Linked DNA regions of Homo sapiens. The protein of the gene in region 2 interacts with the protein of the main gene of each other region in a biochemical or structural test. Each region holds a gene or a part of one and is shown on either strand. Other genes may lie near its edges. The genes, in order: DCAF6, CUL4B, WDTC1, DCAF1, KPNA4, AHR and SIRT1.

Evidence for each region.
Region 1: the proteins of CUL4B (region 2) and DCAF6 form a complex in vitro, tested with the Homo sapiens proteins (one study listed by BioGRID).
Region 3: the proteins of CUL4B (region 2) and WDTC1 form a complex in vitro, tested with the Homo sapiens proteins (one study listed by BioGRID).
Region 4: the proteins of CUL4B (region 2) and DCAF1 form a complex in vitro, tested with the Homo sapiens proteins (one study listed by BioGRID).
Region 5: the proteins of CUL4B (region 2) and KPNA4 form a complex in vitro, tested with the Homo sapiens proteins (one study listed by BioGRID).
Region 6: the proteins of CUL4B (region 2) and AHR form a complex in vitro, tested with the Homo sapiens proteins (one study listed by BioGRID).
Region 7: the proteins of CUL4B (region 2) and SIRT1 form a complex in vitro, tested with the Homo sapiens proteins (one study listed by BioGRID).

The regions. Positions count from the first base shown.
Region 1 is NC_000001.11:168,047,520-168,052,342, reverse strand, and holds part of DCAF6 (DDB1- and CUL4-associated factor 6), read right to left. Parts: intron 1,452-4,823; coding exon 1,410-1,451; intron 1-1,409. UniProt on the Homo sapiens protein: Ligand-dependent coactivator of nuclear receptors. Enhance transcriptional activity of the nuclear receptors NR3C1 and AR. May function as a substrate receptor for CUL4-DDB1 E3 ubiquitin-protein ligase complex.
Region 2 is NC_000023.11:120,536,118-120,540,462, forward strand, and holds part of CUL4B (cullin-4B), read right to left. Parts: coding exon 4,253-4,345; intron 3,256-4,252; coding exon 3,151-3,255; intron 2,654-3,150; coding exon 2,543-2,653; intron 2,093-2,542; coding exon 2,007-2,092; intron 918-2,006; coding exon 810-917; intron 1-809.
Region 3 is NC_000001.11:27,240,448-27,245,270, forward strand, and holds part of WDTC1 (WD and tetratricopeptide repeats protein 1), read left to right. Parts: intron 1-4,744; exon of another isoform or gene 4,745-4,823. UniProt on the Homo sapiens protein: May function as a substrate receptor for CUL4-DDB1 E3 ubiquitin-protein ligase complex.
Region 4 is NC_000003.12:51,412,204-51,417,026, forward strand, and holds part of DCAF1 (DDB1- and CUL4-associated factor 1), read right to left. Parts: intron 4,669-4,823; coding exon 4,584-4,668; intron 2,655-4,583; coding exon 2,421-2,654; intron 1,841-2,420; coding exon 1,747-1,840; intron 1,184-1,746; coding exon 1,079-1,183; intron 864-1,078; coding exon 790-863; intron 278-789; coding exon 176-277; intron 1-175. UniProt on the Homo sapiens protein: Acts both as a substrate recognition component of E3 ubiquitin-protein ligase complexes and as an atypical serine/threonine-protein kinase, playing key roles in various processes such as cell cycle, telomerase regulation and histone modification.
Region 5 is NC_000003.12:160,527,572-160,531,071, forward strand, and holds part of KPNA4 (importin subunit alpha-3), read right to left. Parts: intron 3,370-3,500; coding exon 3,284-3,369; intron 469-3,283; coding exon 382-468; intron 1-381. UniProt on the Homo sapiens protein: Functions in nuclear protein import as an adapter protein for nuclear receptor KPNB1. Binds specifically and directly to substrates containing either a simple or bipartite NLS motif.
Region 6 is NC_000007.14:17,342,897-17,347,215, reverse strand, and holds the end of AHR (aryl hydrocarbon receptor), read right to left. Parts: intron 4,296-4,319; coding exon 4,152-4,295; 3' UTR 1,069-4,151; downstream 1-1,068. UniProt on the Homo sapiens protein: Ligand-activated transcription factor that enables cells to adapt to changing conditions by sensing compounds from the environment, diet, microbiome and cellular metabolism, and which plays important roles in development, immunity and cancer.
Region 7 is NC_000010.11:67,891,156-67,895,978, reverse strand, and holds part of SIRT1 (NAD-dependent protein deacetylase sirtuin-1), read right to left. Parts: intron 4,578-4,823; coding exon 4,425-4,577; intron 1-4,424. UniProt on the Homo sapiens protein: NAD-dependent protein deacetylase that links transcriptional regulation directly to intracellular energetics and participates in the coordination of several separated cellular functions such as cell cycle, response to DNA damage, metabolism, apoptosis and autophagy.

The DNA.
Region 1 (4,823 bases), on a different chromosome or scaffold from region 2:
CTCAATTAAAGCATCATGGTACTTTATAGTTGCAATTTTCATTATAAAACCAGAAACCAGCTTTGCGTACTTGTGATAAAAAGTATAAATCAGGATATCAAAAAACTCTGAAGCAAATTCCATTTTATTGTCATACAATTAATCAGAAAGTGATAACTAGGCCAGATGCGGTGGCTCAAGCCTGTAATCCCAGCACTCTGGGAGGCCAACATGGGCAGATCACTTGATGTCAGTAGTTTGAGACCAGCCTGGCCAACATGGTGACCAACCCTGTCTCTACTAAAAACACAAAAATTAACTGGGCCTGGTGGGTGGGCGCCTGTAATCCCAGATACTCAGGAGGCTGAGGCGGGAAAATCACTTTAACTCTGGAGGCAGAGGTTGTAGTGGGCTGGGACTGCGCCACTGCACTACAGCCTGGGCAACAGAGCAAGGCTACATCTTGGGGAAAAAAAAAAAAAAAGAAAGTGATAACTAGTAATAATTTGAAAAAGTTATTTCAAATATACCTTAATGTTAAAACAGGCTAGAAACAACAGCACAAAACAAAACAAGTTTGAGAAGCAAAAACAAATTTGAGACTTGTAGATGAGAATCCTCCTGACAATGAACCATAACCAGAAATTTCCATACATCTATTATATTTTTTGGCTTATTTCATGACTTCTGTATTTTTCATTAGGAACTCTACAAACTTTACATTTCTGATTGTTGCTATATGTTTCATGTTCAACTGTTTTAGAAACTGATGGTAAATAACAGATATATGCCTCTAGAGTTAAGTACAAGGTTGATTTTGTCAGCAAAACAGGTTTTCAGTAGGTGACTGATGTCATTGAGGTTCACTTTAAAGATCTACTCAAAAATATGTCCCAAATAGAGAAGTGCTTGAGGCTTATATATCATCTTGATATGTGACACTATTTCTAAACTATTTATAAGGAAACAACTTTCTTGCAAAAATCAGAAACCTATACACAGATTTAGATTCAAGTACATTTTTAGTTATTGAGCTCAAGGAAAAGGAGCATATACGAATAACAAAAAGTTGGTAATTGTTATCCCAATCAAATTTAAAAAACATAAATTGCATTCTTCAACAAAATATCCAAAAAGAGTAACTGATACTTAAAGTACATCATTTCAGATTATAGTTACTTTGCCATATGACATATTTGAAGTGAACATCAGTCTGCACACAGGAAATTTCTTTTCATTCTATCCCCATGCAGTGCATGCAGCTAAATATAGTTTGTGGAAAGCGACCTGCTTTACAATGCTTAGCACTTAGAATTCAGTAAGTCCAAAGGGAGTATTAACTGTTAATAGGAAAGGTGGTTAGCTGTGGCAAAAGAAGACCTGGCAAATCCATCATAAAAAAAAAATTATGAAGGAACATACTGAATTACCTCATTATTCTATCACCTATTGTTGTTCCTCTGATATTAAATCTAGTGAAGGGAACACAATAACTGAAATCACTTACAAAGACTTCAAAGAACCAAATATTTAAAGCATTAAGGACACCCTTTTTATCATCAATCATCTCAATTTAAAAAAAAACTTTTGTTTCCCTTTGTGACTTCGGGCATTAAGCAAGGAATATGTCAGTCAACTAAATGTATATGAAGAAATTAAGGAAACAGAAACACTCATTGAAGCTAGAATAGAAGGAAGACATTGCACTTAATCCCTTTTATCTTTTAAATAAATCAGAACCCAATCCTGTCACAGTATGGGAAACTGCACTGGCTTATAATGAATACCATCCTCTGGAACACGTACATGCTCCTCAAAGCTGAGGAGCTCTTTGGAAAATAAATAATTAAGCCCTAAGCTAATTCACTTGGCCTAACCACAAGACTATATAACAAATGAGCAAAGAATAACAGGGCTTTTAACTCCCTAGGAGTCCAGTTCTTTCTCTTTGAGTACATCTTTTCTCTCTGCAATTTTCTTTAATAAAGAGTAAACTGCAATAATGAGAAATAAGGAAATCATGGTTACAATGATGACTGAATAAATGCTGCCAAATTTACAGTACAAGGAATTTTGGCTTTAAAAGTGAGGGCTATGCTCCATGGTCCAGAGTAGGTATATGGAACCAAATTTCTATGAAAATAACACTTTAAAAGTTATTAAAGGGCAATATAGGATAAATCACTCTTTAGGGAAAAAATTGTTAGATCATCCTAACTGAGGCTATAATTAAAAACTATTCAAGACTATGTGAGGACTTATTCAGGAAGCTTTCTTAGATGCTTGTTTTTTTTTTTCAGAGAGTAATTTAGGTTTTCTCTTGAGTTTAGAAACAGTAAGAGCTACCAATCAGGCCGTCAAATCACTTACAACAGATTTGGCATTGTAAAAAAAAAAAAAAATTATACAGCCTGGGTGCGGTGGCTCATGCCGGTAATCCCAGCACTTTGGGAGGCTGAGGCAGGCGGATCACGAGGTCAGGAGATCGAGATCATCCTGGCTAACACGGTGAAACCCCGTATCTACTAAAAATACAAAAAATTAGCTGGGCGTGGTGGCAGGCGCCTGTAGTCCCAGCTACTTGGGAGGCTGAGGCAGGAGAATGGCGTGAACCTGGGAGGCAGAGCTTGCAGTGAGCCAAGATTGCCCCACTGCACTCCAGCCTGGGTGAGGGAGCGAGACTCCGTCTCCAAAAAAAAAAAAAAAAAAAAAAAAAATTATATGCAGATTATCTAAACAGAGATCTCAACCACACTCTTTTCATTCCAAGGGCATATATTTACGTTTCTTAACCCAGTATATGGCCAGGCGCGGTGGCTCACGCCTATAGTCCCCCAGCACTTTGGGAGGCTGAGGCTTGAGGCCAGGAGTTCAAGACCAGCCTGGTCAACATAGTGAGACTGTCTCTTCTAAAAAAAAAAAAAAAAAAAAACAACAACAACAACAACAACAAATTAGCAGAGTGCAGCAACATGCACCTGTAATCCCAGCTACTTGGGAGACTGAGGGAGGAAGATCGCTTGAGCCCAGGAGTATGAGGTTGCAGTGAGCTATGATCATACCACTGCACTCCAGCCTGGGCAACAGGGCAAGACCCTGTCTCAAAAAAATAAAACAAAATGAAATAAATACAGTATATAAAATCACTAAAAGATACACATACTATTTTTTTGCTTTGTTTTGCTTTTTTCCTAAGTCAGACTTATTTTTGACATTAGGACTAATTTTATTTTTTTAAACACCATGATTAGAGAACAAACATTTCTTTCTGTCTTTTTTCAATTTATTTCCCATTTACTGTTCCATGTTCTTGCCTTACGCAAAGTTAAAGGGAACCCAAATATGTGGAGATTCATATTATTTCATTGTTTCAAAGTCTGGATTTTTGCCAGTAGAGGCATTTTACCACAGACTATAGTTTGATTTCTCTCTATAACACTGATTACTATAGAGCAGGTATTTGCAAGCTATGGCTCTTGGGCTAGATCTCCGCCAAATGCCGATTTTTGAAATGAACCTTAGGCTAAGAATAGTTTTTACATTTTTAAATGTTAATATTTTAAATGGTCATATAAGTACCTACCATAATGGTCTCCATTTTGTCTCCTGGCCAACAAAGCCAAAATATTTACTATATGGCTCTTTAGGAGTAAGTCTGCTGCTCTGCTATAGACTCCCAGTTACATTTACATAGACTTGCTGTAGTTAATGAGAAGAGCATTCCATTTAAAAATATCTATGTTAGTTGTTAAGGTCTTCATTTTCTAAGACATTTCCTTCTCATGCTTGATCTCAGCCCAAAAGTGAAAACCTGGGTCATTTATTTAACCAAATTATAAGAATGTAAATATTTTTTTAAAAATCATTACTCTGTATTGCAAGGAACTGTTCTGATATTTTCAGTAAATTTGTCAGAAATGACTTAGCTATAAAGCCTTTTAAAGTTTCCTTTTAAAAATTAAATTTGGAACAAAAACTGATGAGGTCCACTATATAGTTCTTCATATAAAGTACAGATCAAATTAAGTATACACTTGTATAATATTTAATTTTAGGACCACTTCTCTACCCCAGCTAAACTAATATTGACTGGGCTTTGCAAATGGCAGCATGGAGGGAACTTTAAGACATACATCCTTTTAGGTGGGCATTTCATCCATGTGTGCAATGTATCCTTGGACTCTAGGAACCAAATGGTATGATTGTTACAACAGAGCTTCACAACCCTTAGTCTCTTGGGAAACAGAAACTCTCCAAAATCATAGGACTAATTACAAGCTGGTAAGTGATTCTTTTCATGTTCTTAAGAAGCAAAATCTCTTAAACTTTCTCTCTTTAGAATAAAAGTCAGCTAAATTGAGAAGTAAGATAAACTGGCAGGAGTGTCAATGATGAAGAGCCCTTAGAAAGGTGCAGAAATATTAAAAGTATACTTTTTTACAGTTGTTCAAGATTAAATCAGGATGGTGCCAAAAAAGTTAAGAATTATAATAACCGATTTAGATAAAAGTCAGAGGAAATATTTACACCATTTACAAATTTTTGGTAAAGAGCTAGAAAATAATGCAAATCTCAAAGGAAAATTAATGTAATTGTTACTCTAATCACTTTCTAATTACCTCAGTATACACATCTTTTATATATATATACACACACACACATATATATATAATTGTATTTACTTTCATATATTAAATGTTTTCTATGTTCCTATAAATGGCTTCGGTATTCTCTCTTATTCATAAATAATTAAGTTTCTTGAAGGATAAGAATTTTATCGTTCTTCTGTTACTCTTCAGGAAGTTTACTACTATATCTTACAAAACAAAATACCATGTAGGACC
Region 2 (4,345 bases):
TTATTAGGATTTATACCTTTTGCTCTCTCTGAACATTTAATCATCCCCTCTTTTGAAACATTCACCTGCAGCAGCTTTTGTGCCTCTGCACTATGCTGCTTCCTTTATTTCACTGTTGCTTCTGCATTGGTTTCCTTCACAGGTTCCTCTTTCTACCATCTGCCAAATGTGAGCCTTTTCTAAAGTTCTGCCTCTGCTGTTTTTTCTTCCTCTTTGAGAGAAATCTACTCCCTGGGCCTTCATAATCATCTCCATGGAGGATTCTCAATATCTATCTGTCTAGCCTTAATCCCTTTTATGGGCTTCAGTCCTGGACTAGACAGTTTACCAGGAGTCAGGATAGATTTAATCAAGGACCCATCATTTAGCAATCCCACCTATGGGTGAAATATGTGCAAGAATTCTTAATAGCTAGGTAGAGTGAGGGGTATAACCTGGGAAGATGGAAGAAGAGCCAGGGAAATTGACCCTGAACCCAGAAATTTGGCATTATTAGCTATGTGCTTAACTGGACTTCTAAGTACAAAAGTAAAACATTAAAGCAGTTGGTATTTGGTGTTGGTGCGCTTACTGACATACACTTTTAAAAGTATCCATGCCAAGCCTGGTGACTTACACCTGTAATCCCAGCACTTCGGAAGGCTGAGGCGGGGGGGATCACTTGAGCCCAAGAGTTCAAGACCAGCCTGAGCAATACAGCGAGACCCTGGGTCTCTATTTTTTTCTAAGTATCTATTTTTAAATGACAAGCAAAATGGAAATGCTATGATTTCTATGCCTATAACTCAGTTCTAAACAGTAACTCTTACCTCTGGTGGTAAATGAACTTCCATAGGCACATATGTCGGCCAATAGCCCATTGTCAGGATATTCACAGTTAACTCAATATTTCCCGGAACATTCTGATTCTGCATATACTATAAGAAGATCAAAACACACACTGAGATCTTAAAACTGCATACATTTCATATCATAATAACCTATTTAAGAAGTTCCCTGTTATGAAATTACATGCAAACACTGACCATCCTTAAAATAAAAGGCAACTATTAAGAAGACTTTAAATGAAACCTACACAAAATGCACTAGGCAAGTACAGAGGTTAACATTTTGATACAAAGGCATACAAGGATCACATGACCTCATTACAGGCGTTATCAACTTAAATAATTTCTCACATACAGCTGGGCCGTTATAGGATCTCTTCTCCATTCTTTTCCCCAATACCACCTGCAGTCCCCACCTTTGAATACCCCTATGTGGCTTAAACACCTTGCAGCAACCCCCATTCCTCACCCCCCAGCCAGCCCAAGTCTCCAGTTTTTCACTTGCTCCACTGCCTGTCTGCAGGGAGTGACCTGGAGTAGGGAAGGAAAAAGAGGGGAAAAGGGCAAAGCAGATAAGCCCTATTCTGTAGCTACTATAGAATCCATAATCTTACTGACCCTGATTTTTTCTTAATTCTTTCACTTCCACTTCCCACCTTAGCAACACTGTGGGGTAAAGAAGTCACTACTAAAACCCAAAAGAGGAAAATCTAATTTGCCATCATTATCACCTATGATCTTAAACATTTCAAAACTACTTTCTACCTACATCTTCAAAACTGTGGATCTAGCTTTCTATCCCCAATGTCCCCAAAGGCTTTTATACAGCTGCATTATCACTTCTCCTCTCTCCCCATTGCAAGCTCTGAACATGCAAATTACCAAACGATAAGATGCTGAGGAAAGCCCTTTTCCCACTATAGCTCTTCTTGTACTGACTTCAGTTCAATACATTTTATTTTTATTTTTGTGTTATTCTGGGTGTTTGTCAAAAATAAATCCTAAAGTAGGTCAAATATACTTATATTTCACCAATTTTTTTTTCTACTGTGAATATCACCTCAGTTGCCATGAATTACAACAAACACGTTTCTATTTATCCTCTTTAGTACAAATCATAGCAAGCAGATAACTAAATACAACTAAGTTTGAGGAATTAAGAGTTTAACTCACTTTTACCTGTTTGAACTGAATCATGATGTCTTTAGAAAGTTCCATGTCTTTAAACATTCCTTCAAGTTTGCTGGTGAAAGCAGCTCCGCATTCTATTAAAGATGTTTGTACATGTATAATATTTTAAAGTGGTAAAAACAAAAGAGGTTTAAAAGTGGGAAACACGAAATACAAAACTTTAGTATGAAGTATGATCTGTAACTTTCATAAGAATAAAAAGAAATCCTTACCCCAAAGTGTATGCCCCATTAATTCAGAGTCAAACTCTTTAATCCTGTAGTAACCTTATCTACTATTTAGGTATAAAATAAATGGGAAATTTTTATACAAATAATAAAACCAAGAACAATGCTTTATCTTAAAAAAAACAACTCTGGATATTATGTACAATAAGTTGGAAACCTCAGGAGCTTGCTCAATTTATGTTTTCATCATATATACATAGACATGAGTGACAAAAGAGGAAATCGATTGAAAGGGTAAAAAGCTAACATTCTCCTTCAGGAATCAAAGAAAAGGAACAGAAAGAATGAGAAACCTACCATGTTTAAGTTTGGACAGCATTGATTTTTCAGCATCTACAGATGCACTCTTTCCGACTAACAGGCGCTTGGCTAAATCTTTCTTATAGAAGGCCTCAAAAACATCCTTGCCTATGTAAAAAGAAATGCAAAATTTATAATATTCCAATAAAAAGTACTGACAAAACTGCTTTAAAGTGCTTTAATAAAGCACACCATTATTCCAAGTTATTTTACTTTACACATTTTATTTAAGTTTGTTAAATGCAAGAAACAGTAGAGATCCATTTTTGTGCCAGACATTTCGAAGTCTTTATTGTAAAACTTTTTTGCATGTAACTGTCTTGATTGCATTAACTTTTCTTCAGAAAAGCTTTTGTGGACTGGTAGCTTTGGTGCCAATATTTAAGAGATTAAGCCAAGTAGCAAAAATCAAGGCACTTAATACTAGAAGAGCCAAAGCATAGGACAATCAGGTAACATTCCTCACGTATCCCCCCAATGAATTAAACACAATTTTAAATCTGTAATTTCCAAATAAATATTCCCTCCAGTTTGAATATACTTGCTAGCTTCTCTGTTGAGTGCTATTTTAAAAGAAAAATATTAAAACATTAGTAAATACTTACCATAGATAAATCTAAATATGATCATAATTTTATCCAACATTTTCTCAAGTTCTTCATCTGTAGCTTCTTTGTTGCCTGCACGAAGTTTTGAATCTACATACTTAGCTAAAATGGGGGAAAAGTTTGTTGTTTAATAACCGGGGAATACACGAGGTACTGGGCACTATATATACCCAAAGAGGAGTATGATACACTGAGTTTTTCAATACTTCAGAAATTTATATGCATTTTTAAAAGTCTCCAAAGTCAGGAAGATCAACTGACTTGTTCAGTGCCATAGAGCTAATAACATCAGGGCCTGAACACAAACCCAAGTGTTCTGACTCCAGATCAAATGTACTTCCCACTATACTGATGTTTATGAAAATAGGATACGGATATCCTGTGGGGGAGGTCTCATGTAGCCCTGTGAGGGCATCATGTAATCCAAGCCACGAAAAGACATGAGGAATCTTCTGGAGTATCCATTTTATAGGAATAGTAAGCAATCTTAAACATTACTTTTCTATTAAAATAAACCAGATACATCGTAGAGTAGAAGGTAAAATTTGCTACATGTTTACGGATACATAGTAGATAGGTTGCAACAAAATTTCATCCTTTTGGCAGAGGACCCTAGACCTTCTCAGGTTACCTCCTCCTCTGACACTAAGGGTACTTGGGTGGAAAAACCTGAGAAGCACTGTAGTGTATATCACATCCTTATGCTAAATGGGCCCAGATTATTAGGTTTATTTTTGCCCTGGACTTTTTTCTTTTTCACTGACAACTGTAATTTCATGCTGCCCTTTTTTGTAGCTTGAAATAACACCCTGCCTCATTTTTAAATCATTAGGCTAGGAAAACAGATTAGCTTATTATCAATAAAGGTAAATAGTGTCCAACGTACTGTCTTTGAAAGAAAGCACATTATGTTTGACATGTGGGCTTTCAGTACTTACATCCAGGTTTTTAGAAACACTCTTCAAACTTGATATACCAGCTAAGCAACCTCAAACAAATCAGGAATTAGTAATACTACAACCTGGTAAAAATTTCAGATTGAGATTTTATGACTCAAAGAACATCATTAAACAACTGGAAAAAGGACTGGAAAACATACCTATAAGTTCAGCTGGTTTATTTGGTCTTTTGTTAATGAACGTTTCAAATGCTTCTTTCATGGCATTGATAAATTTCTCATTCTTCAGAAAGC
Region 3 (4,823 bases), on a different chromosome or scaffold from region 2:
TTTAGTGGGTTTTTGAGGACTAAATGATGAAATATATCCTTTTTACTAGACCTCACTGATTGCCCTCAAGAGCCAGGGCTTGGATGTAAAGGAATACCACTTAGTTGGCTTCTTCTGGGTAAATTCAGGCCTATGTGTAACTCTGAGAGTTCTAGGGCCCATTCTTTGAGCTATTAAGTAATAGCTGCTGACTCCTTGAAGGGCTTTGTGGCATTGAAGACTAATACCTTAAAAACTTTTAAGCCTGGGCTGGGCGCAGTGGCTCATGCCTGTAATCCCAGAACTTTGGGAGGCTGAGGTGGGCGGATCACAAGGTCAGGAGTTTGAGACCAGCCTGGCCAAGGTGGTGAAACCCTGTCTCTACTAAAAATACAAAAATTAGCCTGGCGTGGTGGCGGGTGTCTGTAGTCCCAGCTACTCAGGAGGCTGCGGCAGGAGAATCGCATGAACTCAGAAGGTGGAGGTTGCAGTGAGTTGAGATCGCAACACTGTACTCCAGCCTGGGTGACAGTGAGACTCCATCTCAAAAAAAAAAAACAAAAAAACTTTAAGCCTGAATAAGGGGAGGATGCAGTCAAAAGGCCAGAGTGTATAGGAGGCAGTGTCAGAGGCCCTGTGCAAAGAAAATTCTCAGCTACTACTGCAGAGCCAGATTTGAGGGTCACCGTTGGCATTTTTGTATTTATTATCTTCTTTTAGGATACAAGGTCACAACTGCTAGAGCTGTAACAGAGCTCAGTGCCAAGAATAATGACCCTTAATCCTCCGTATAGCCATCTGGGGAGGTATTAACCCCATTTTCTTGGAGATGGGGTGGAGAACAGGATCAGACCTTGCCCAGGGAGCTCTCCAGAGGCTGTTGAGGGCAGTGTTTGGATCAGGACTTTTGTACAATTTTGTCCTTATTCATGACCCCCCAAATTCTATAAAACTGCTTATCCTTGAACCTCTTAGGGGGCCTTCCTGAGAATGGGAGCTAGGCATTCATGGTCAGGGAGCTTCATAGTTGAGGCCTGAGTGTTTGGGTGCTGATGGCCTACCTGGTTCCCTTTTGAGTTACACATCTGGATATAACACTACTGTCACTGAGTTAGAAAGGAAACATTTCTAACTTGAATGGTTTAGTTTTCCTTGACCTTGCAGCTAGTAGTAGAGTTACAGGATGAAACTCCAGAGCCTTCTCTACAAGAGATATTTTGAATTGTGGCAGGATTTGTCAGGATGCAAGTTAAAGACTGCAGATGCTTTTAAATAGTGAGAGAGTATAGCATTATCAAAATATGCTCCCTTTTCTCTGTTTCCTTCCACTATCTTAAGGTAATTGTGAGGCCTAAGAGCAGACAGGAAAATTAGCTATGATCACTGGAAAACAAAGTTCTGAAAACATCCAGAAAAAATTTTCACAAAGCTCAAACAAGTGGCTGGGTGTGATGTCTCACACTGTTTTTTTTTGTTTTTTTTTTTTTGAGAGTCTCGCTGTGTCACCCAAGATGGAGTGCAGTGGTGCAATCTTGGCTCACTGCAGCCTCAGGCTCCTGGGTTCAAGCGATTCTCTTGCCTCAGCCTCCTGAGTAGCTAGGATTACAGGCGTGTGCCATCACGCCTGGCTAATTTTTGTATTTTTAGTAGAGACGGGGTTTTACCATGTTGGCCAGGCTGGTCTCCAACTCCTGACCTCCAGTGATCCTCCTGCCTTGGCCTCCCAAAGTGTTGGGATTACGGGGATGAGCCACCGTGCCTGGCCAGATGGTTCACACTTGTAACCCTAGCACTTTGGGAGGGTGAGATGGGAGGATTGTTTGAGGCCTGGACTTCAAGAACAGCCTGGGCAAAATGATGAGACCCCCATCTCTACAAAAAATAAAAATAAAAGTAGCCAGGCATGGTGATTTGCACCTGTAATCCTAGCTACTCAAGAGGCTGAGGCAGGAGGATCCCTTAAGCCTAGGAGTTCAAAGTTGCAGTAAACTGTGATAGTGCTACATTCCATTCCAGCCTGGGGAACAGAGCTAGACCCTGTCTCTTTTTTTTTTGAGACGGAGACGGAGTTTCGCTCCTGTCGCCCAGGCTGGAGTGCAATGGTGCAATCTCGGCTCACTGCAACCTCTGCCTCCCGGGTTCAAGTGATTCTCCTGCCTCAGCCTCCCGAGTAGCTGGGATAACGGGTATGCACCACCACGCCTGGCTAATTTTTTGTATTTAGTAGAGACAGGGTTTCACCATGTTGGTCAGGCTGGCCTCAAACTCCTGACCTCAGGTGATTCACCCACCTCGGCCTCCCAAAGTGCTGGGATTACAGGCGTGAGCCACCGCACCCAGGCGACCCTGTCTCTTAAAAGCTCAAACAGCAATACGGAGCCCACTGGGCAGGGGAGAAGACATCAAGGTGAGTTTTTATCTAAAGCTTCCCAGAAAGTAAAGCATTGCTTAGAAGCAGCTCTCTTCTGCAGAGAAAACCTCAAGCAGTCCTACATGGGATTATTTAAGCCAGGAGCCTCAAAGATGGCTAAGAAGTTTCCTGAAGATGCTTTGGTGATGAGTCTATCCTACCAGCGAAAGCTTTCCCAGAAACTGTCCTTGTACCAACTTAGTCCATGACCTTGAAATGGCACTCTTTAAATTTGTGTTTGAGATCAGCAGAGTCAAGGCAGCTTAACCCTAAGGAATGGTAAGAGACAAAGTTTCAGCAGCTTCCTGAAATTGTATCAATACTGATATTACAGGTGTGAGCCGCTGCTCCCTGGCCAGTAATTTTTTTTTTTTTTTTTTTTTTTTTTGAGACAATGTCTCACTCTGTCACCCAGGCTGAAGTGCAGTGGCATGATCTCGATCTTGGCTCACTGCAACCTCTGCCTCCTGAGTTCAAGTGATTCTCCTGCCTCAGCCTCCCCAGCAGCTGGGATTACAGGCGCCTGCCACCATGTCCGGCTAATTTTTGTATTTTTAATAGAGACAGGGTTTCACCACATTGGCCAGGCTGGTCTGGAACTCCTGACCTCAAGTGATCTGCCCGCCTTGGCCTCCCAAAGTGCTGGATTACAGGTGTGAGCCACCACACCCGGCCCAGTAATTATTATTTAGTGGCCAATGGCCTGGCCCCTGGAGTCAGACTGTATAGGTTGACTCTCTGTCTAAGAACTGTGTAGCTTTGGCAACTTCACTTTTCTGTGCCTCAGATCCTGCATCTGTAAGATGAGGATAACAATAGCACCTGTCTCATAGGATTATTATGAGGAGTCTGTGAGATGACACTTGTAAACTGTTAGAATGTTCAATAAATATTATTTAATAGGATCAGTGTCAGGCATTTTACATGCAAGCGCTTCTGTTCCTCCTCACCCTGCAGAGGTAGGTATTATCAGATTAGGAAACTAAGGTTTAGAAGTGTCAAGTCAGGGTCTGGCATGGTGACTCATGCCTATAATCCCAACACTTTGGGAGGCTGAGGTGGGCAGATCGCTTGAGCCCAGGAGTTCGAGACCAGCCTGGGCAGCATGGTGAAACCCCATCTCTACAAAAAAAAAAAAAAAAAATGCAAAAATTAGCCAGGTGTGTGTGGGTGGTGCATGCCCGTGGTCCCAACTACTCGGGAGGCTGATGAGATGGGAGGATCTCTTGGGCCCGGGAGGCAGAGGTTGCAGTGAGCTGAGATCATGCTACCACACTCCAGCCTGGGTGACAGAGCCAGACCCTGTCTCAAAACAAATAAAAATTTTTTTAAAAAAATTAAAAAGATGAAGAGACGTAAGAGGTATAGAAAAGAAAAAAAAATTTAAAAGAAATGTCAAGTCAGACAGAAAATAGGTGTCAGAACTGGGATTTGAACCTAAGATCTGTTAGGTCCACAGCTACACTCTTCATTTTATTATGCTCTTTCTTTCTTTTGTTTTGTTTTGTTTTTGAGACAGCGCCTCACTTTGTCACACGGGCTGGAGTGCAGAGGCACAATCATAGCTCAATATAGCCTCAAACTCCTGGGCTCAAGCAATTCTCCCTCCTCCCTCCTGCCTCAGCCTTCCTAGTAGCTAGGACTACAGGAGTGTGCCACCATGCCTGGCTAATTTTTAAAAAACTTTTTTATAGAGACAGGATCTTACTCTGTTGCCCAGACTGCTCTCGACCTCCCGGCCTTCAAGTGATCCTCCTGCCTCGGTCTCCCAAAGCACTGAGATTACAGGCATGAGCTACCACACCTGGCCTTATGTTATTTCCAATGACCTTTATGCATTGAAAGTGAAGTTGAGTCCTTGCTTCGTTGCATCTTTCATCTTTTTTGTAGGATTGCTCCAATAGAACCACTATAAATAGAGTGAAAGGAAACTTGCATACATCTTTGCATAATTCAGAATGTTGAAAGGGGGTCAGTTGTCACCCTGGTTGGGGGCACGTCTCTGCTATGGGAGGTAGCATGTCCAGAGGAAAGAGAATACAGATGTTTTAGGTTCCATCTCTGGTCTGCTGCTAACCAGTAGTGTCTACTTAAAATCTCAGCATAGTGTCATCGGAAGGGGTTTTGTAGCTTATCTCAGAGTCCACCTCTCATTTTACAAACGGCAGAATAGACTGAGAGAGCAAAATGCCTCACTCAGGGTCATACAGCCAGTTAAAGGCAGAGGCTGGCTTGGAGCACAAGACCCTAGATCTCCCAGTCCAGTGCTTCTTCCTCAGTACCATGTAGTATTCTGCTTCACTTCTCCCTTGTTAAATGGGGATTATTATCGTACATGAATATTCATAGCAGCATTATTCATAGCAGCGTTATATTAGCTTTCTAACTTCCTAAAAGGATTGTTGCAAAGTTCAAATTAAAAGCTTGAACAAAA
Region 4 (4,823 bases), on a different chromosome or scaffold from region 2:
ATCTTATAATAAAATTTCTTCTGAGTTTCAGTGATCAAGGGTACATGACAAGCCTTATGAATGTGGCAACAGGTAGCAAAGGTTGAGTAGACCTTTAAAACCTCCTACAGCAAAAAGCAGAGCATAACCTCTATTAAGCACTGTTCAGCAGAAAGAAATCTCAAAGACCACTGACCTGGTCCTCCTCTTCATCCTCATCCTCTGCCAGACGCTGCCTGCCCACTTCATACAGCCTGCATACTGTGTCCATGTTCAGGGCATCCATGCTGCCTTGATTCTGAAATAGAACATCCAGTCCATAAGGAGCAGTTACTTTTCAGAAGGTCCACATCCACGCCTCAGCCCTGACTGGTGCCCATGACCTTGACCCTGTAATTATTAAAGCTTCTGATACCCGAAATTCTTGAGCTGACTATGAAAATGTTATACCTAGGACACATAAAGGGGAAGAAAAACAGAATGAAAAGACTTGGTGAGGAACCATCACCCTTGGAACAAACCAGTCTTGCTCTGGTGAGAGATCCAGATTCCTCTGAGAAAGGGATGACAGTGTGAGTCCAGAAAAAAAGGAGACAGGATCCTCTAAGCTGTCTTATATTGGGATTTTCTTACTATTTCTCTTTGTACTGTACATCTCCCAAGCCCCATCAAATGAATAGGTTATCAATAATCTACCTTCAGGAATGTATTGACTTTACATCTTATATCAGACAAAATGTCTGTAGTACAACTTGAAAATTATCCTAAACATCAGAACAAAAGAGCAGGGCCTCTGCAAGCTCCCTTTACCTCAATGACAGCAAGATAGCAGTCTTTGGTGTCTGTACACAGGTCAAAGATGTTCCGTTTCACATCAATGGTTGCTGGAAAATAGAATGTGAGAAGATTGGGATTGGACTATTGCTGTGACCCTAAAACCTGCTTTTCCTCTAAAGGAATTCAGGATGATTGCTCAAAAGTATTTCCATAACTTCTCTGTTTTTCAATAAAAAATTACAGGCCTCCAGAAAATGAAGGATCTTAAATAAGGAACACCAAAACACGACAAAATGTTCAATGTCTGTCCCTTTCTGCTTACCTATAGGTTTGTAGTCAGTTGCATTAAATGTTCGGAAGGATGACCCAAAGGGGCTTTTCATCCTCTCTTCCATTAAGTCATCTTCATCATCTGCCTGCAACATAGCTTGAGGGGGAGTGGGGGAGGAAACACTATTAGGAATCACAAACATCCCCTCTTCACAAGTGCAGAAAATGTTAATGGCCAATCAAAACAATCTACTTGCATATAGGTTTACATACAAATTCCCTTGTACAGAAATCTACTCTGCATCTAGTTAGCTCCTCTCAGAGCATCTTCCTTGCATATCCCACCTATTGTGACAAATAATATCCTCAGCCTCTCATCTACCTCCAAGAAGTGTTACTGTACTTACAAGGCTTATAACAACACAAGAGGACAAATGCAAAAGCTCTTAAGTTCATAATGATACACTGGAAAATACTGCATGAAATTTCTTTCCATACAAGATTTCCTTGTTATCTTCAAAGTAAGCTGCCTTTCACCCTAAACCAACATTATTTTCATATCTTTTGTCACCATTCATACTATCAATTTTTTATCTTTTATGTTACAACTCTCAAATGCTTTCCAATTCACAAGTGAGAGATGGTTCCAAAAAGAAGTATCAAATTAAGTGAAGGGGTAGAGCAAAAGGAAAGAGAATAATGAAGGATAAGGTTTATTACCTCCATACATCACTGTTCCCGTGTGATTGAACACCACGCGACACTGATCCAGAGCGGGAACAGTATGCAAAAGATGAAAAGTTCGAAGGTCCCACTAGGAGGGGAATGGTCAAGGAAAACTATTTTACACAAAACTTATCTAATCTCATGGGAGGAAATTCTAAAATATCACTTTTTTTCCTCCTGCCAGGTATTGATACTTTAAAAGTCAATGAGATCAAGGTAAAACAAATACATGTAGAATGCATATTATTGAATGATGTCTCTGAAAATATCCTAGGGTATCCTCATATACAGGAATGCTTTATGAGCTCTTTTCCTCCCAACAGTAGTACTTCATTTTCCTCTTATGTGGCAACTGATTTTTTACAGAGCAAAAGTAAAATCCTTCTGAAGACAGATAAAAGCTAATTCAATTCTTGGAGAACTGGGAGGTAGGAAACTGGTCACTCTTACCAAATACATAGAAAACATGCTAGTGAAAGTTGTCAGTAATTACTAACATTGGCAACAGTGCTTTGGAGATTTCACTAACATTTCAAACCAAAGGACAGGCACCATATTATTACCAGTGTGGACACTTTAACCAGGTATTGGTATAAAGATAGAACAAATTATTTCTGCACCACAAACCAGACAACAAATGGAAGGTAAGACATGAGTATAAAGGATACAATCTCAGTATTAATGATCACCTCCAGTCCATTTGGATGGAAAACACCACTGATGTTCATATTGAACTTGTCAAACTTGTGGATGGCCTGTGCAGAGCGGACATCCCAGAGGACGCCATCATTTAAGACAAGATCATCTGTAGGATTAAAGGTGGCACAGTTCCTCTTGTAGTTGTTGGCAAGATCTGGGTTAAACAGAGTCAACAGCTTGTTGCCAGTCTGAATATCATAAATCTTTAGAGAAGAAGGGATGGGAAGAGAAAAATCAGACCAATCCATCCACTGACAAATTAAAGAGAAAATGTGCAAAGCAGTTTCTAAAATTAACACACAAATTCTCCACATGGATCAATGATTACCACAGAATACTGCCTCCCAAAGTGCTGGGATTACAGGCGTGAGCCACCGCACCCGGCCAGGCACCTCTTTTTCTCGGGGTTCCATTCTGCCTTACTGGCCATTATATTTGATTTCCTTCCCAAGTTCCTCATTTGGCAACTCCTAAACACATGCCAGGGTTCTATACCCACAACTCTTCTCTAGTCCCCTTGATGATCTCATATAAGTTCATGGCTGTAAATACTATCAGCTGGGGACAGTGACTCATGCCTGCAATGCCAACATTTTGGGACACCAAGAAAAGTGGATCACTTGAGCCCAGGAGTTCGAGACCAGCCTGGGCAACGTTGGGGAAATGCCGTCTCTACAAAAATACAAAAAAATTAGCCAGGTGTGATGGTGCTCGCCTGTAGTCCCAGCTACTCAGGAGGCTGAGGTAAGAGGATTGCTTGAGTCCAGGCAGTCAAGGCTGTGGTGAGCTGTGATCGTGCCACTGCACTGCAGCCTGGGTGACAGAACAAGACCCTGTCTCAAAAATAAATAAATAAATAAATACTGTCAATATGTGGACAAGTCCCATATTTATATTTCCCAACCCACACCTCTCTCTTGAACTCCCAATTTTTTGTTGTTTTTATTTTCAGAGACAGGGTCTCACTTGGTTACTCAGGCTGGAGTACAGTGACATAATCATAGCTCACAGCAGCCTCCAACTCATGGGCTCAAGCAACCCTCCCGTCTCAGCTTCCTGAGTAGCTGGGACTATAGGTCCCAAGCCCACCAAGCTCAGCCAATTTTGTTTATTTTTTGTAGAGATGGGGGGAGTCTCTCTATGTTGCCCAGGCTGGTCTCGAACTCCTGGCCTCCCACCTCAGCCTCCCAAAGTGCTGGGATTACAGGCAGAAGCCACTAAGTCTGGCCAGCTCCCAACTTTTGTATTCAATCCCCATTCTCTACTTGAATGTCTAAGAGAATCTCAAATTTCATGTGTCCAAAATCCCAGGGCCAAGGTCCTCCATTTCTCATAGCCTCTACCATGCCTACCCAGGCCCAAACCCACAGCTCCTCTCATGTGTCAGGTGGTACAACACCCTCTGACCTGGAAGGCTGCTCTTGCTTCTCTCACAAAAACCAGAGTCACACTTCAGGAACTTTACATCCACTCATGTATCCTCTACTCACCCACCAGTGTCTTCATCTCACTCAAAAAAAAAGCTAAAGGCCCTAACTACCACCTACAAGATGCTACCAGATACAGGCCCCTCACTGACCTCAGCTCTCCTCCCACCTCCCAAGCAAGGGCTTTTCCCTTGCCATTTCCTGTGCCTTACGCTGTTCCTCCAGGTATCTTCCTGAATCTCGCGTTTCCTTCAAGGCTCTGCTTAAACATTACCCCATCAGTGATGCTGTCTACCCTAGATAAAAGAGAAGTCCCCCACACCACCACCAAGCATTTCCTACCTCTTACCCTGCTTTCATTTTCTCTGAAACACTTACCACCTAAATTTACCGTATATTTGCTTCTTTATTGTCTCCCCAATGAGGGTCCATAAAGGCAGGGGTTTCATTTCTAATCTAAAACTTACTAAGAATTCAAAAATATCTGTGGTGCTAATGACATCTTTCTCAATGTCACATTTAGCCCTTATACATTTTTCCCATACAGCTCAGAACTATATTATCATACTTTTAGATTCTAACTAGAAGGAATATCACTGATTTCTAGTTGCCCAAAGGACTTAGGTCCTCACATTCTATCAAGAAGATTTCAGTATGAACAAATGGGTATGATCAGCTTGAAAACAGTGGTTCTTAAGTACTTACGTGGGCAATGTCTCCTTTTGTGCCGATGACCCGATCCTGGGAGTGCTTACTGAACTCAACATAGTGATCTTCTGTGAAGGAATGCCTATGGACAAACAACAGGAGCACTGAAGTGACAGATCTTCAGGACATATTCCTGCAACCAACTGAAACACAGGTGACCCCCAGCCTCTTGCACAATCACACTCACCTAAAGATCCTGGACTCCCAAAGAGGAAACAATCATACACTTAGATTACA
Region 5 (3,500 bases), on a different chromosome or scaffold from region 2:
AGTTTTGTCTTTTTTCTTGTTACTTTCTTTGATGGAGAAAGCTGAGAAATAAAAAGGGACCCCACTGATCAACATGGGGGTTAGGGGAAGAAAAAATGGATCCTAGCATGAGACAGAAGGTCTAAATTGTATACATCTTGCATAATTATTCAAATAATTAAGAGCTAACTATATACCAAAAAAATGGTATCTTAAGCAACAAAAATTCTATTTACTATGACTTTATGCTTTTACAGTAATACAGTTCAAATTTCTGTAAGCTATTTCACAAAAACTAGTACTGAAGGCAAACTGTTTTCTCTTTTGGATTACTAGTAGCTATTTTTATTACTTAGTATATGATAACAATTTTTAGACTAGTATTACAAGTTTTATACAAACCTATGATATTTCCCAATGCCCACACTGCTTGCTCACAGACATTCTGATGGGGTGAATGGAGAAGCCTCAGGAAAAGTGGCACAGCATCTGATGGAAGAAAAAATAACAATACTTAAGGTTGAAGATACCATAAACCAAAAATCAATCTTTATTTTTTTGCTGAGACCTCAAAAAAAAGGGAACCTATAAAAATATACTTAAAATATAACCTCATTAAATGAATTTTATTGGAATAGCATCATTGGAAGAATTTTGACCAGTGACTATTTACTCAGTATCAAAATGAGTTATCCAGACAAGTGTTAAATTAGGCTTGTGAAATTTCATTAACAATTAAACCTGGAATTAATTTCAAGATTAATTCCTTATAGATTATCTGTAGTTTGAAAAAAAAAAGTACATTATTGAAGTAACTTTTTTTTTGTTTTTTTGAGACGGAGTCTCACTCTGTCATCCAGGCTGGAGGGAAGCGGTGGAATCTTGGCTCACTGCAACCTCTGCCTCCCAAGCTTCAGTGATTCTCCTGCCTCACCCTCCCAAGTAGCTAGGACTGCAGGTGTGAGCCACCATGCCTGGCTAATTTTTGTATTTTTAGTAGCGACAGGGTTTCACCGTATTGGCCAGGCTGGTCTCAAACTCATGACCTCAAGTGATCTGCCTGCCTTGGCCTCCCAAAGTGCTGGGATTACAGGCATGAGCCACTGCACCCGGCCTGAAGTAACTTTTGAACACAAATTTATGTTAACAACATGTGGGTCTTTAAGACAGGCCAGTGATTCCTGGGCCATGTGGGATCTTCCGAATCAGAAAGTGATTCTGTTACTCAACAGGATGGGAAACAGAGATAGGTCTGTATCTGAACAAAATACTGCACTGAACAAATGATTCTTCTTCTTTCCTTCTGATATTACTTTAAAAAGCACTATTTAAGTATATGTAGCTCAATCATGCTTGTAATATCATAAAAGGTAATTCACTTATGGGTTTGTTTTTGAGATAGTGCCTTACTCTGCTGCCCAGACTGGAGTTCAGTGGTGTCACCACAGGTCACTGCAGCCTTGACCTCCCCTGGCTTAAGTGATCCTCCTACCTCAGCCTCCTGGGTTGTTGGGACTATAGGTGCATGCCACCAAGCCCGGCTAATTTTTTTTTCCTGCATTTTGTAGAGATGGGGTTTTACCATGTTGCCCAGGCTGGTCTCTAGCTCCTGGACTCCAGTAATCTGCCTGCCTCAGCCTCCCTAAGTGCTAGAATTACTGGCATGAGCCACCATGCCCAACCTCATTTATTTATTTATTTATTATTTTTGGTATATTAAAGCAGACTAGCAGGGTCAAAAAAATTCTAAGCCTCTTTCTAATCTTTAGAGAGCATACATAACAGAAAGGAAAAAGTGTGAGAGGGAATAAAACATTGTTATGAAACCAAAAATTTTCCTAAGAGTCAGCTATACAAAACCAAAAAACCACAATAAAAACCACCTGAACCCAAAACCAAACCAGTTTTAATAGGATGTGAGGTAATTATCTTTTCTAAGTAATATTACAACATAAGTGTCTACAGTAAAATGATTATTTGGATAACATCTTTGTTCCCCTTCAAAATGTACAAATTAGTGCTTACATTTTTAATAAGCTCAGAGAAGTATGCTGCTTACATATTTAAAGAGGATTTTAAAAGTATCTTCTTTAAAATTATTAATTTCTTTGTTTGGTAGAACAATCAAATACTATTCATGAAGACAATACACTCGGGTTCTTACTTCCAATAATTTTCCACTTACATTTCTTGAAACAAAAAAAAGCAATCCTATTATAATAACAATGAAAAAAAAATTCGAGCCATTCTTTCAACTAGGACTACTTTATAGAAGATTTCTTTAAAATATATGATATGGCCGGGCGTGGTGGCTCACACCTGTAATCCCAGCACTTTGGGAGGCCGAGGCAGGCGGATCATGAGGTCAGGAGATCGAGACCGAGACCATCCTGGCTAACACAGTGAAACCCCGTCTCTACTAAAAATACAAAAAACTAGCCGGGCGTGGTGGTGGGCGCCTGTAGCCCCAGGTACTTGGGAGACGGAAGCAGGAGAATGGCATGAACCCGGGAGGTGGAGCTTGCAGTGAGCCGAGATCGCATCACTGCACTCCAGCCTGGGCGACAGAGTGAGACTCCATCTCAAAAAAAAAAAAAAAAAAAAAAAAAGAGAAAAATCTCATTAAGAGAGGCTGAGGCCCGGTGTGGTGGCTCATGCCTATAATCCCAGCACACTGGGAGGCCAAAGCAGGTTGATCACTTGAGCCCAGAGTTAGAGACCAGCCTGGGCAACATGGTGAAACCCTGTCTCTACAAAAAACACAAAAATATTACAAAAATTAGCTAGGCACAGTGGCACATGCCTGTAGTCCCAGCTACTTGGTGGACTGATGCGGAAGGGTCTCTTGAGCCTGGGAGGCCGAGGCTACAGTGAGCTGAGATTGTGCCATTGTATTCCAGCCTGGCCAAAAGAGTAAGATCTTGTCTGAGAAAGAAAAACAACAACAACAAAAAAACAAAAACAAAAAAAGAGAGGCTGAGAGGCAATGTGGCAACAGGAAAAACTCCTTTATTTCTACTGATGTCCTATAAATAAAGTGTAACAATAATAATGTAATCTGCTACTATAATTAGGAAATGTTCTCATATTTAGAAAGGAATCAAGTGAATTTTTGGAAATACAAAAAACATCAGTCACCAGAATAAGAAGATTAAAGTAACATACTTAAGTTGACCTATTTCAATAACTACGTAGTAGCTATTATTTTATAATTTAAATTGCCATAGTCTTTTGGGAAGATCACTATTTTTTACCGACTTCTTTTAAAAAAAATCACAATTATGTTTATTAATAACCAACTTACTGGACTGAACTACTGCTTGAGTTTGTTCAGAAGTTCCAGATGCAATGTTTGTCAAAGCCCATGCAGCTTCAAACTGTAAAGAAGGACTACAAAAAAAAACAAGTATTTTTAAACAGCAGGGATTTTTACATTGGGCCAAATATCTAACCATTCTTCCTTCTACCATTTAAAATGCATTAAATATTTTGTTTCAAAAGTTATCTATCCATCCAGCATA
Region 6 (4,319 bases), on a different chromosome or scaffold from region 2:
TCACAGGAAATCCTACAGAGAAGGAGAGCCTCTCAGAAAGCAGGTGTCGAAGCTGTGTGCATGAGAACGAGAGAGGACGGGGGCTAACCCTGGAGTTCAGGAAACTCTCCTCCTCACATACTGGAGGTAAGTCCAAGGATAGAGGAATTGCTGAGGTGAAGGTACAAACTTAGGATGATATCCTTGATTTTATTAGTAAAAACGGAAGCAAGGTCATCTGCAGACAGTGAAAGAAATGAGAGATGTCATCCAGCCCTGTCAGTGGCCAACATCCCTGGGTCGGTGTTTGGTAGAGCTGGTGAAATTGGACAAGCTAGAGTCATTCATGGTGACAGAAATCACCTAAGCGCAAGCAGAGATGCACTCAGGTTATCAGGATTTTTACTTGATTTTTTTCAGATCAAATAGTTAAAACTAAATATTTTATGTAATTCTTAAAGACTCAGGATTAGTCTAAAATGTTCAGAATTAAGTATGATGCTAACTTATGATATGCTAGTTGAGAAAAATGCCTAATTGTAAAGAACAAATATAAAACTAATAGAAAAATAACTGTCACAAGAATGAAAACATTTTCTCAGGAATTCTTCTTCAATCAATTCTAATTGCAGGGTTTTCCATGAATGTTCAACAGTTATGAATTTAAGGCCAAAGGCTTCTGTATCATTTATACTTATTAAACAGAAATACTAAGTTTGGGCAATGGTTTTTCTAAACTAAGCACAAAATACAGCTAACAAGGGTTATTTCGAATTTCTTCAGAAATATTCTTAAAATATTAAAATAGGATTTTGGATTTTAATCTAAGACACACTACTACACTGATAACACAGGGCTTTAAAAAAGTTCATTTCAGAAGCATTTTAATTTATGAAGCTACTGAGAGTGTTTTTTATATCCAGATAAAGGTCAGACATTGGGGGGCAAAATTGTATAAGAAGTTTATGAATTACTGACTTAACATATCCCTAAGTATTGTAGATTGCCCTCATCTAACATAGTTATAATACTACAGAATAAATAATTTCCTTTACGTGGACCAGAAAGAATTTACATTAAAACATATTATTCATATTTGTTATTTTATTATATATTATTGTATACAACTTTGATAATGAGGATATTATAAATCATACTTTAAGCAAAAATCTATGCATGATATATGTAAGCAGTAACATTTTGAAGAAAAAAGCCATGAAAGCATTTACCTAAAATTTAGTAACATCGAAAAACACTAGTTTGTGCATAGTAATGTTGAAAGCTTCATAATACACTAGAATACTGGTAAGTCTTCAGGTATTGTAAGAAAAACCTGGTACAGGAAAAGACTAAATTAGACACATCCATATCCTTAGATGTGCACATCATCTAGAAATAAATCCCACAATGTAGCAGTGCACTAAGTATCCTTTGTTTGGCACTTAACAATACAGACAAACGTGTATTTGGTTTAACGTGATTTTATTATTCTTAGATACATTTTAGTTATTTTATATAGATAAAAATATACAATATTGCTTTTCAAACTTTTAATTTTATAACTGTATAACTGATTGTCATCATATTCATGATTAAAAAGCCTATTTTCCACTAAACAATTTATCCAGTAACATGTGGAAGAGAGTAACAAAAATGGTTTATGTAAGACTTATAATAAAAGGTTTAAATGTAAAAATAGAGTATTAATCTAGACCTCTGGTCTAAATCCTTAGATACCTCATGCTGGAAACAAATTATGAAATGTTTCAGACAAATTTTTTCCAACACTTAAATTGATTCTACAGGTTTAAAGTTTTGACTGAAAATACACAGAACTCAGAGATATTTTGTCCGAAGCCATTTTTATATACATTAACTTACTAAAAAAAGTAAAAGAAATAAAAATTGTATTTTTTTTTTTTTTGGAGACGGAGTCTCGGTCTATTGCCAGGCTGGAGTGCAGTGGGGCGATCTTGGCTCTGCAACCTCCGATTCCCAGGTTCAGGCTATTCTCCTGCCTCAGCCTCCTGAGTAGCTAGGACTACAGGCTCACGCCACCATGCCCAGCTAATTTCTGTATTTTTAGTAGAGACAGGGTTTCACCATGTTGGTCAGGATGGTCTCCATCTCTTGACCTCGTGATCCACCCTCCTCGCCCTCCCCAAGTGCTGGGATTACAGGCGTGAGCCACTGCACCCGGCCAAAAATTGTATTTTAATACATCTCAGTTTGGGATTCCATCAGATTTTCAAATAATACATGCAAAATGTGTCTAAGCTCTTCAGCTCTCATATCTAAAGAAAAGAAGAGCTGAATGCAGTGGCTCACGCCTGTAATCCCAGCACTTTGGGAGGCCAAGGTGGGAGGCTCACCTGAGGTCAGGAGTTTGAGACCAGTCTGGCCAACATGGTGAAACCCGTTTCTACTAAAAATACAAAAATTAGCTGGGCATGGTGGCACATGCCTGTAATCCCAGCAACTCGGGAGGCTGAGGCAAGAGAATCACTTGAACCCAGGAGGTAGAGGTTGCAGTGAGCCAAGATTGTGCCACTGCACTCCAGTTTGGGCGGCAGAGTAAGACTCTCTCTCAAAAAAAAAAAAAAAAAAGAATAAAAGATGGTGTCATTTTTTCTTTTAAACCATGTTAGGACAGTAAAGTTGGTAGGGTGATTAATTTGCCTATTGGTAATGAAGATCAGTATATCATTAAAAAAACCTAAAGTTTGAAGGTAAACGAACTATGTGGTTGTCTTTTTATTAATACCAACTTTAAGCAGTTGGATTCATTACTTGATTTCTTAGAAAGACACATTGATAAAGTATGTAAAGCCCCAACAAATTAAGTGCATATATAAGGTATGGACTTTTTAAAATGAAAAACTGCAAATATCTTACAAATAATTTTGTTCATTATATCTATACAATGCACCATTCAATTCACTCATTACAATACTTTGCACCAAACCTTGCTATCTGCAATCTTAACACTCCTCAAATATGAGAAAAACACATAGTTTCCACTGTTCTAAGAAGCGAAATTTATAAAGTCAACACAATATATTATCAAGGATTATAGGTCTAAAACAGTTTTTAAAGACAATTTATACACATTGAAATGGGTGCTTTGCTTAATTAAAAAGCTAGAAATAAAGCTTCTTGCAATTTAATAAACAAGGTTGCAGTTAACAGCAGATTTTTCACATTGCAACATTCAACTATCATCATGGAGATATCAATAAAGGTAAAGAGTGGTATATTTATTTCTTCTGAAAACACTGTTGAGGAATTTAAGTGCTATTGTCTTAATATTTTTATAATAATTAAGAAATAATTTGGAAAGACATTTTACTTTTAAATTTTTTCAACATAAGGCACATAGCAACATTTATAGTCTAGAAACAACTAAATTATGTAATAAATAATTATTTTTTCGATCATTATTTGCCCTTTACCTGAAGAAAGTAGGTAAGCAGTGGAGTTAAAATATGCCTGAATTAATGAAAATGGTTGGATTTAGGAAACACAAATAATATTTGTGTGCAGAAAGATATTAATTTAAAAAAGAAAAAGAATACTTTATATAAAATATACATCCTAGAGTGTTATAGGTAGAAAAAAATGTGAGGCACTTAGATGAAACAGTGAAGGAGGAAAGCACTGAGATTATCTTTTTATAAAAAGCACCAAACCATTTATTTTAACATCTGAGATAAAAGCAGAGGTTAACATGATAGGAAAAACTAGTTTAGTTCTCTAACTTTGTATTTGGGGAACTAATAAGAATCCAGTAGCTCAAAACTCAAAGTATTTTATTTTTACTGTGACAGAAATAATTCAAATAGAGAATATTTTCTAATTTAAAAGAATCTTAGTTTCCCTGATAAAGTTTTGTATATTTTGTGGTGCCCAGAATAATGTGAAATGTAGACGGTACCTCACCACTCCGTGGCAGCACCCTTTCTATCTTGACTGTAGTATATGTAATTTTGATACCATTTTTAAACTCCCTTTTCTAAAAGCAAAAATTAAAATTTGGTTTGGAATAATTGTGAATAGCATGCATCAATGCCTCCATGTGAACTTGCTGACGTCCAACAGTGACAGTTTTATTTTTCCATAATCCTTCACAAACTAATTTAATCCAAAAACCAGGGTCAAAATTGGGCTTGGAATTACAGGAATCCACTGGATGTCAAATCAGGAAAAGGTCTGGCTTCTGACGGATGATGAAGTGGCTGAAGATGTGTGGTAGTCTGAGTGTTATTTATGTTATTTAATTCAGCTGGATATGTTTCATTTAAAACTCCATTCTGAAACTGAAAACAAAAATGGTGATGCAA
Region 7 (4,823 bases), on a different chromosome or scaffold from region 2:
CCTGAGGTCAGGAGTTCGAGACCAGCCTGACCAACATGGTGAAATCCCGTCTCTACTAAAATTAGAAAAATTAGCTGGGCGTGGTGATGGGCACCTGTAATCCCAGCTACTCAGTAGACTGAGGCAGCAGAATTGCTTGAACTCGGGAGGTGAAGGTTGTAGTGAGCCGAGATCTCACCACGGCACTCCAGCCTGGGTGACAAGAGCAAAACTGTCTCAAAAAAAAAAAACAAAAAAAAAAAAAACAAGTTAATTCTCAATAATCACATACAATCAATGATATAATAGATGGTATAGAAATTCTTTCCAAAAAAAAAAGAAAGTCTCTCTTTCCTTCTGAAGTATCTAAATTTCACCAATATTTCCTTTTCATGGCTTCATTTTTAATGTTTTCTCATAAGTAGCAAAAATCATAAACCACTTTAGTGAACTTTCTGCCTAGTACACTGACTCACAGAAAAGCTTAGGTTATCCTATGAATATTCTATTCTTGTAATATTTAGAAATTCAGTAAAATATCGACAATATTTACATACCCTCCCCATCCTCCGTGTCAGGATACTATCCTGCACTCTTTGTCCTTACTTATTTCTCCTTAAGCGCTTTCGGCTCACTGCAACCTCCACCTCCTGGCTTCAAGCAATTCTCCCCGTCTCAGCCTCCTGCGTAGCTGGGACGACAGGCGCCCGCCACCCAAGCCTGGCTGATTTTTGTATTTTTTATTAGAGACGGGGTATTGCTGTGTTGGCCAGGCTGGTCTTGAACTCCTGACCTCAGGTGATCCACCCACCTCGGCCTCCCAAAGTGCTGGGATTACAGGTGTGAGCCACTGTGCCCAGACTGGAAGCTTTCTTTTTTTAGTCAGTTCCCAATGTGAGAATTAAAGGATGGACAAAGAATTATATGTGAGTAACAACTGTAAAGCCTAGCTGATTTAACCATTACCATAAATGAAAACTCAGAAAAGCAAAATTAAATTTATCAGCTGGACATTGTGGCTCACACCTGTAATCCCAACACTTTGGGAGGCTGAAACGGGCGGATCACGAGGTCACGACGAGACACGTCCTTGCCAACATGGTGAAACCCCGTCTCTACTAAAAGTGCTGATCGTGATGGCACGTGCCTGTAGTCCCAGCTACTTGGGAGGCTGAGGCAAGAGAATTGCTTGAACCCGGGAGGTGGAGGATGCAGTGAGCCGAGATCGCGCCAATGCACTACAGCCTGGCAACAGAGCAAGACTCCATCTCAAAAAATAATAATAATAAATAAATTTATATAAACAGGATTAGAAGAGGCTACACCTTATAAGTGACTGAATTTTTTTTCAGTTTAACAATAAAAAATGTATTCTCCATAACTAGTGAGTCAAGTTTTTTGTAGTTGATTTAAGATCAAAGTAACTTCTAGTTACTTGCTGGTCTTCTGATAGTGTCAATGTCTGCGCTACGTGGAGATTTTATAAATGCCAGTGTCCTAGCTCCAATTCAAGAAACCTTTAAGTCATACTTCACTGGTCTTCAAAACCATGCAGTAGTGCCACTAGCAGGAGTAGGTTAAAACAGTAAATCTTCACTAATCCATAATTAACAAAAAATAACTTTACATTATTTATTTAATCCAGGTATGAACCAGTTGTCTGCTCTAAAAGCTAGATATAGATGACCATCATCATTACGGATATATGAAGTAAAAAGTTCAAATTATATAAGTTTTAAGTTAAAAATTCTCTTGATAGCCTGAAAACTTTTCAAATTCAGTTTAGTAATCATATTCAAGAATTAATATAATTTTCCCACTTTACACTAATGCCCATTTAATATACCACAACCTGGATAAAACAAAAGTTACATGGGGTGGAGGGGTGTAGTGATTAGGGTCTCACTGTGTTGCGCAGGCTGGTCTCAAACTCCGGAGTTCAAGAGATCTTCCTATCTCAGCTTCCCAAAGCACTGGGATTATAGGCACGAGCTACTGCATCCAAAAAATCACTTTTTTTTTAAAGACAGTCGCCAATTTAAGTAACATAATTTATTCTGAATTAGCAAAGCTTCTCCTGTAGTCATGTAAATATACCACATGGTCTGAAAGTAGATAAGGCCACTGTTTAGTTAAAATTTAGGTTCATCGGCAGGGCGCGGGGCGCGGTGCCTCGCACCTGTAATCCCAGCACTTTGGGAGGCTGAGATGGGCGGACCACAAGGTCAGGAGTTCAAGACCAACCTGGCCAACATAGTGAATCCCCGTCTCTACCAAAAATACAAAAATTAGCCAGGCATGGCAGCACGCGCCTGTAGTCCCAACAACTCGGAAGGCTGAGGCAGGAGAATCTCTTGAACTCGGGAAGTGGAGGTTGTATGGTGAGCAGAGATCACACCACTACACTCCAGCCTGGGAAACAGAGCCAGACTCCGTCTCCAAAAAAAAAAAAAAAAAAGCTAGGTTCATTAACTTCTGGATTCATTAAAGAAGTCCCTATTCACAACTTCTAACGATTAGGTGGGGAAAAAGCCACTAATACAAGACTCCTTCGCTGGAAGCCATCATCCTCAGCAAACTAACACAAGAACAGAAAACCAAACACCACATGTCCTCACTCATAAGTGAGAGTTGAACAATAAGAACACATGGACACAGGGTGGGGAACACCACACACAGAGGCCTGTCAGGAGGTGGGGGGCAAGGGGTGGAAAAGCATTAGGACAAATACCTAATGAATGTGGGGCTTACAACCTAGATGACAGGTTGATAGATGCAGCAAACCACCATGGCACATGTATACCTATGTTAACAAATCTGCGCATTCTGCACATGTATCCCGGCACTTAAAGTAAAATAAAATAAAATGACTCTTTCAAATATATATACCTCCAAGTTTAACAATAACAAATTTTGTAATTTCTTTCCAAAAGACTGAAATACAGGAAAGAAAACAGTTTTCTAATGACTCAATCTCTTGAGAATGGTGTAATGCATTATTAAACTTTCTATGCTAAAGCAGAGCTGTACAATAGGTACATAATGTGAGACATACATATAACTTTAAATTGTTTAGTAACCACATTAAGGTGAAAACTGGCCAGGCGCGGTGGCTCACGCCTATAATCCCAGAGCCTTGGGAGGCCGAGGAGGGTGGATCACCTGAAGTCAGGAGTTCAACACCAGCCTGGCCAACCTGGTGAAACCCTGTCTCTACTAAAAATACAGAAATTAGCTGGGCATGGTAGCGGGCGCCTGTAATCCCAGCTACTCAGGATGCTGAGGCAGGAGAATCACTTGAACCTGGGAGGCAGAGGTTGCTATGAGCCAAGATCATGCCATTGCACTCCAGCCTGGGGGACAAAGGAAGACTACTTCTCAAAAAAAGAAAAAAAAAAAAAGTAAACTTCAAAAAACATACATATATTTTGGAAACACTCTTGCTCTGTTGCCCAGGGTGGAGTGCAATGGCAGATCATGGTTCACTCAGTCTTGAGCTCCTGAGCTCAAGGGATCTTCCCACCTCAGACTACTGAGTGGATGGGTCTACAGGTGCACACCACCATGCTCAGCAAATTTTATTATTTATTTTGTAGAGATGGAGTCTCATTATGTTGCTCAGGCTGGTCTCAAACTCCTGGGCTCAACTGATCCTCCCACCTTGGCCTCCCAAAGTGCTGAAATTACAGGCATGAGGCAACACGCACAGCCCAAAATACATTTTATTTAACCCAATATCAAAAGTATTTCAAAAGAATTCAAAATTAATTTTAAGTATTTTTTCCATATAAAAACCAATATTTGTTTAATATTTGATGAATAAAACTAATGAAATACTTTGTATTTTCCATACTGGATCTCTAAAATCCAATATGTCTTCTACACTTATTGCACATATCAATACATTTCAAGTACTCAACAGCCACATGTGGCTAGTGGCTTCTGAACTGGACGGTGCAACTCTAGAGCAGAATAATGATCCTCTGCAATTTGCTGACAAAAATGCAACCCAAGAATCTTCCCATTCTCTAATTACAAATGATTTTTCAGGCACATCCTTATGTTAAAACTTGACTACGAAACACCAAAGTGATGTTATAACCTTTACAATCTCTAATAAAATATTAAAAATCACAAGTTATGTTACTTTTATATGGTGTGCAAACCTCTTAAAAAAGCCCAGGCAGAATAACGACCATCGCTGCAGTGCAAATTTTAAAAATATGAACTATCTCTTTGAAAATAAGCTCACTCCTAAAATGAAGTAGATAATAGTCCTCCTCTAGGAATAAAGGAATTCTAGCCATAATGAGTGATCTTACTCCGCCACAGTAGCAGCATTCACTTTACTAAACAATGAACGATAACCTTAAGGTGGCTGTATGTGAACAAAATACTTTTTCATGAGAGAAGGCCAAAGAAACAACCAGAAGAGTTCATAGTACCTTTGCAAACTTGAAGAATGGTCTTGGATCTTTTCTGAAATATTCAATATCAAACATCGCTTGAGGATCTGGAAGATCTGGGAAGTCTACAGCAAGGCGAGCATAAATACCATCCCTTGACCTGAAGTCAGGTATTCCACATGAAACAGACACCTAAAATGTGCATGGCATAATTTGTAAAATTAAATCTTCTACCTTTATAGGAACTAGCTAGCTCTCTTACCATATAATTAGGTAAGAGTTGAGAAAGAAAATTTTAGTCTGAAACTTCTTTTAAGAAATAAAAATACAACCCTACCCTTATTTCAGAAATAAAACTCCCAAATAACTGAGTAAAATTAAACATACCTCATATTCCATCTTTAACACAGATAAGGAATTTTTAAGTCAGGCCAATTT